Linked DNA regions of Homo sapiens: region 1 is linked to region 2. Evidence: fine-mapped expression QTL. Tissue or cell type: whole blood. Region 2 holds a variant in brackets; the other region holds the start of a gene. All regions are shown on one strand. Distances are from middle to middle.

What was found. PIP is the estimated chance that this variant, and not a neighbour inherited with it, causes the effect.
Region 1: SOWAHC starts here. The variant in region 2 is fine-mapped to the expression of SOWAHC in whole blood (INTERVAL, PIP 0.98).

Annotation. Positions count from the first base shown.
Region 1 is chr2:109,613,191-109,616,091 of GRCh38, reverse strand. SOWAHC (sosondowah ankyrin repeat domain family member C) reads right to left here and starts at 1,728. Exons shown (of 1, transcript NM_023016.4): 1 at 1-1,728. The coding sequence starts at 1,602. The coding sequence ends at 25. SEPTIN10 (septin 10) reads left to right here and starts at 2,126. Exons shown (of 11, transcript NM_144710.5): 1 at 2,126-2,294. The coding sequence starts at 2,265. It also overlaps a transcript of RANBP2 not described here. RefSeq lists silencers at 1,675-1,844, 2,105-2,354, 2,385-2,474 and an enhancer at 2,327-2,901.
Region 2 is chr2:109,567,069-109,569,969 of GRCh38, reverse strand. It overlaps SEPTIN10 (septin 10), which reads left to right. Exons shown (of 11, transcript NM_144710.5): 6 at 1,994-2,155. It also overlaps a transcript of RANBP2 not described here. Among named protein-coding and RNA genes, the nearest start is that of SEPTIN10, 45 kb to the left of the region's middle. The variant G/AG (reference allele first, on the strand shown) is at 1,597.

The DNA.
Region 1 (2,901 bases), 46 kb before region 2:
TGCATTTTCTAAAAGAAGCAATTTTTACCCAAATACATTGGACTTTGGTCTCAATGTGAAGGGCGAGTGGCCTTTAACAGGTCGTTCCTCCCCCACTCCCTCCTCCCCCCTGCCCTCCAGCGGCTGCTCTGGGTCCCTGAAAGAGGGTGTGGTGTGGACGATCTGGGTTCTGAATCGGATTTTGTTGAGTCTGGGTTTTATACGTCCACTAGAGCTGCCCGAGGCTTTGCGCCCTGGATCCTTGGCTTTGCCTCCGACCCACCCCTCAGCCGAGTGGTGATGGTGGTGATGGTCCCCTCCATCTTCTAGGGCGTGTGAGAGTTTGTAGGTGATGAGATGCGAGGGAAGCACCTTTGAAAGCCTCCAGCGCCCGCCGCCGCTACCCGCGGCGCTTTCCCCGTCACCCTCGTCCAGGGCTCCCACCAGGTTCTTGATCTCCTCGGCGATGCTCCGACTCAGGTACTGGGAGGCCTTTTTCCCACTGTAGTCCCTGATGTCCACATCGGCGTCGTAGGCCCCCACCAGCAGCTTCACCACCTCCACGTGGCCGTGCATGGCTGCCAAGTGCAGGGCGGTGTAACCCCCGCTCGTCCTGGCGTCGATGTTCACCGGCAGCTGGTGTTTGTTGGCGAAGTTGACTAGCATGGCCAGAAGCTCCTGCCTGCCGTGCTTGGCGGCCCAGTGCAGGCAAGTGAAGCCGGTAATGAAGTCCCGCTTGACCAGCAGGCCGGGCTCGCAGGTGAGCAAGCCCTCCAGGCTGTCCCACTTGCCATCGGAGGCAGAGAGCATCCACGCGTGCTCCAGGGGGTCCAGCGTCACGGAGCCTCCGCCGCTGCTCTCCTCCTCCGCGGACGACGAGGCCACCGATGCGCTGTCTGAGTCGCCCCCGCCTCTGCCGCGTCCTCCCCCGGAGGAGCTGCCCGGGCTGCTGCCCCCGGGACACACGCTCCTCTTCAGCTGCGGGGAGCTGCCCATCACCAGGTCACGGAGGTTCTGGCGGGCCGGCCTCTGTGCGGTAGCCCCCACAAGGGAGCTGCCCCTGTCCGCCTCCTCGCAGCCATGTGGCGGGAGCTCCAGGTCCTCGCTGGGCCCCGGGGCTGGAGTCCGCGGTAGGGGCTGCACGTCGCGCCGCGAGTTCTTCCTGCGAGCCCCGGCGCTCAGGGGCGGCCAGTGCGCGGGGGCGGGGGGCTCTCCCTCGCCCAGCTCGCGGCCCTGTCCAGGGAGCGACTCCGGGGCCGCCGCGTCGGGGAGCCGATCGCGCGCCTCGGGCCCGGCAGGGCCGTCGGGGGCCTCGGGCTCGGCGGTCACCTGGATTCGCGGCGGGTCCCCGGAGGGCTCGGACGGCCCTTCACAGAACCTCTTCTTGAGGTGCACGTACTTGGCGCCGTCGGCGGGATCGACGCGCACAGTGGCCACGGCGTTCACCAGCTCCTTGAAGTGCGCGCGGGCGCGGGCGCGCTGCTCCGGTTCGCCGCCTAGGGCGCCCCTGAAGTGCTGCACCAGCTCGGCGTGCAGGGCCCGGCCCCCGCGCTCCGCCAGGAAGCGCAGCACCGCCTCGGGGCCCAGCGCCGCCTCGGGGCCCCACTCTGCCGGCCCCTCCATCCTCGACCGCGCTGCTCCCCCGCCAGCGGGCGGCTCAGCGCGGTCCCATAGCGACGGGCTCCCAGCGGCCGGCTCCCGACGGCGGCGGAGTCTGGCGGGCTCAGCGGGCTGCCAGCCTACGCGTCTGAGGCCAGAGGACTCGGCCACCGCCTCACTGGGCCGCGCCCGGGCGGACACGCCCCCCGCACCCCCGCCCCGCGCCCACGCCACCAGGCCACGCCCACTTCCGCTCCCCGCTGTCTCGGCCACACCTACCTAGGGCGGCCTCGCCTCAAGGCCCGCCCACTTCCGGCCTCGCGAGGGCCGCAATCACTGCTCCGCAGTTCCCGCCTGCATTCCTCGCGCCGTCTTCCTGGAGTCCCAGCTCTCCTTCAGCCCGCCCCAACGCTGACGCTCAGTCCTCAGGCGTCGAGGGTAGCTCCTGTGAGGGGCTCGCTTGGCGCAGGCAAAACGCTCAGCGCGCACCACAGGGCGTCCGCCCCAACCCCGCCCCCGGAGGCCTCCAGCTCGGCCCCGCCCCTGTCCCTTCCCCGTCGCGGAGGCAGCCTAGCCTCGCGCCCCGCCCGTTGCTTCTGCCCTCCGGCCTTCCCGCCGCCGTCGCCGGGACCAGCCGCTCGGGGCCGGGCTGATACAGCCGCTTCACCGTGCCCCTGCCCGCGACCATGGCCTCCTCCGAGGTGGCGCGGCACCTGGTGAGTCCCGCCGACGCCGGGGCCCCAGCCCCGCGCTCCCCGGCCCCCGCGGGACTTCCCGCCCTCGACCCACCGGCCCCCTGGTCCGGCCCGGGATTGTGACCCGCGCCCCCTCCGGCCCCGCCCGCCCAGTGCTCCCCGGCTTCCGCGGCGGCCGGGCGCCTGGGGCGGGAGAGGAGCCTCTGCGGAGCCTGGGCGCGGCCGGACCCCGGTTCGCGGGGCGCGGCGCCAGCGTCGGGACGGTGGGAGAGTTCTTGAACGACTTCCCGGTCTTTGCCAAAAGTTACATCCACAGCGGTGTTTGTGGGTCTCTTACGGCTATAACGGAGTTGAAGGCGCAGTGCGGACTGATTGAATAGCGGTCATCTTTTGCAGCCGTGAGCACTTCCGAGCCTCCCTGCCGCCGGGAGAAAGCCCGGCTCCCCTGGCTTTTCAAAAGCTCTCCCGTTTTATCCGATGGTGTGGTCGTCCAAGTTTTCCTCCATTGGGATTTTAAACCGTTTTTTTCCCGCCTTGACTCTTTTGTACTCTAAAAGAACGCGTTTGTTCACTGTTTTGAACCTTTCCAGTTACTTTTGTAGATTTATCTCGCTTGTTAGTAAGCCAG
Region 2 (2,901 bases):
ATGAGAGGTGGTGTCCTTGCTGACCTCATCTTGCCACTCCCCAGGCCACCTCCAGATAGTTGTTTTCTGTTACTAAAAAGCAGAACATTCGACTGCTTGACATGGAAAGTTATCTTCTCTTACGCCATTGGTGACAAGCGACCCTCTTTGGGCAATATCTGTTACTTTCCCTCCCTCTAATAGTCATGTAAACATTGATGTTTAGTATTCAGTCTACTGCAGTTTATTGTGCAAGCAATTATAAGTTATTAACTTGGCATAATTTGTTGAATACCTAAGTATATAATATTGAAACTAAGGACTTGGCACCAAAATGTTTATGTACTTTGACTAATTTAACAGGAAAGTTGTTTACTTAGGATTGCTGGAAAGTTTTCTGCCATCAATTTCATAGACAGAAAAAATTTCTCTCCTTGGGAGCATATGGAAGGCTGATAAATTCAGATATATACTTGGCATCAATGTGAAATTTGAGAAGATAAAAAAATTTAGAATAGGAATTATAATTTTTTCCTTTTTTTTTTTTTTTTTTAACAAGAGTTTTGCTCTTGTTGCCCAGGCTGAAGTGTGGAATGCAATGACGCGATCTCGGCTCACTGCAACCTCTGCCTCCTGGGTTCAAGCGATTCTTCTGCCGCAGCCTACCGAGTAGCTGGGATTACAGGCATGTGCCACCATGCCCACCTAATTATTTTGTATTTTTAGTGGAGATGGGGTTTCTCCATTTTGGTCAGGCTGGTCTCGAACTCCCGACCTCAGGTGACCCACCTGCCTCAGCCTTTCAAAGTGCTGGGATTACAGGCGTGAGCCACCACGCCCAGTCAATTTTTTACTTTTAATCTGAAAATTACATTGAGGTTTTACTGTCTTGATACATATGACTGATTAGCCTGAGGTTTTTGATGAAAAACAAACTAAAAAACTTAAGAACCACCAGTCACAAATTTGTGGAGCTATCAGTCTTTTGTGGGGATATTAATCTTATAGAACTAGATTTACAAGTTATTCGGTCTTCACAACCCCAAATCTCTTGCCCTCTGTCAGTGATAGGACTTCAAATAATACTGAGAAAGTTATTCCTTTGCATCATGAACACTTTTAAGATAGTAGTACATACAGTTTCCTTCCTCTGCTGTCTAAGTAAGTCTGTGACAGTGGGGCACAGGTAGGCATGGAGTCAGTCCTGAAACGAGGCACAAAGAGAAGCTTCACCTGTCTTTTAGTTTTGCTGAGGGATCAATCACCCTGGTTACTTAGTGCTTAGATTATTAAAAAATAAAAATTCTTAGTGAATTGAGGCAATTCAGTTTACCTTTTATCACATTTTACTTTTTAAGTGTATGATGAAATTGCAAGATTTTGAGAGAGAAGAAAATGTGAGATTTCTAAACCTAAATTCAAATGAAAGATTAATCTTACAAGAGTTCTGCTTTCTGAAAGCATTGATTGAGGTGCCTGTAATCCCAGCTACTTGGGAGGTTGAGGGAAGAGAATCGCTTGAACCCAGAAGGCAGTGGTTGCAGTGAGTTGAGATTGCACCATTGCACTCCAGCCTGGGTTACAGCGAGACTCCATCTCAAAAAAAAAAAAAAAAAA[G/AG]ATTGTGTGGCTGGCATCTGTAGGAATGAGTGTATAAGGGGTGTATATATACAGGAGAATGGCCATCTGGGTCAGGGTTGGCATGCCTTTTCTGCAAAGGGCCAGGCTGAGAATACACTGGGCGTCACAGGCCCTGTGGTTTATGGCAGCAGCAACTCATCTCTGCTGTTGTAGTGTGAACGCAACTGTAGACAGTACACAAGCAAATGGGCATGGCAGTGTTCCTGTAAATCTTTATGTATCAAGATCAACAGCGAGATGGACCGTAGTTTGCCAGCCCCCCGATCTAGGTTTAGGGAAATTCATTGTCAGAATGAACAGTTTTGAGTGAAAAAACAGCTGCAGGATTAAAAAAAAAAATCCTCAGTAAGATTTTGTTTTTCTTTATTCTTAATAGGTAAACATTATACCAGTGATTGCCAAAGCAGATACGGTTTCTAAAACTGAATTACAGAAGTTTAAGATCAAGCTCATGAGTGAATTGGTCAGCAATGGCGTCCAGATATACCAGTTCCCAACGGATGATGACACTATTGCTAAGGTCAACGCTGCAATGAATGTGAGCTCCTGATTGAATGTTAATTCTGTTTTCCATGTGAAAATAAAACTGTAATTTGTGAGTAATATTGCTGCTAATACACTTTCACTTGTGTCTTCCAAAAAGACTTCAAACAAGGTGAATTTTCAAAAAGTCCAGTATGAGAAAATGTTTAGTTTTTTAAGTTGGAAAAGGTGTAAGGAGAATTTATTTTTAAGCATATTTTTCTTTCACTCTGCTTTCACCAAAATAAAGTGATAGATTTGTGAGACTGGGATATACCTTTTGTGCAGCCATATGTAATTGCCTTAGAAAGATGACACCTTCCTACCCTGTCTTTATAAACATGAGAAGACTTTACAGCCTCCCTTTGCATGCTGTAAAATCTTAAAATCTTTAAGGAGGTCTCTTAAAACTAGTATTTATGCTCCTTCTCTCTCATAGTGTCAAGTTACATTCATATAACTTTTAGTTTAGTACAATGGAAGGTGACTAAGTTCTTAATTTTACTTTCTTGAAGCTAACACATTTTTAAAACACCTGGTTGTGTTTTGTAGGATCATGGGTTTTGAAATCTGACAGGCTTGGTTGGCCATATGTCCATTGGAGTTACTAACCTCCCTGAGACTTAACATATCTACAAAGTTAGGTTAATACTGCCCACCTTAAGGGTTGTTGTGAGGGATAAATGATGTCACCTTTGTTAAGCGCCTAACAGTGACTTTCAATAATTGTTCATTCCATTTCTTCTATTTTCCTTTTCTGAT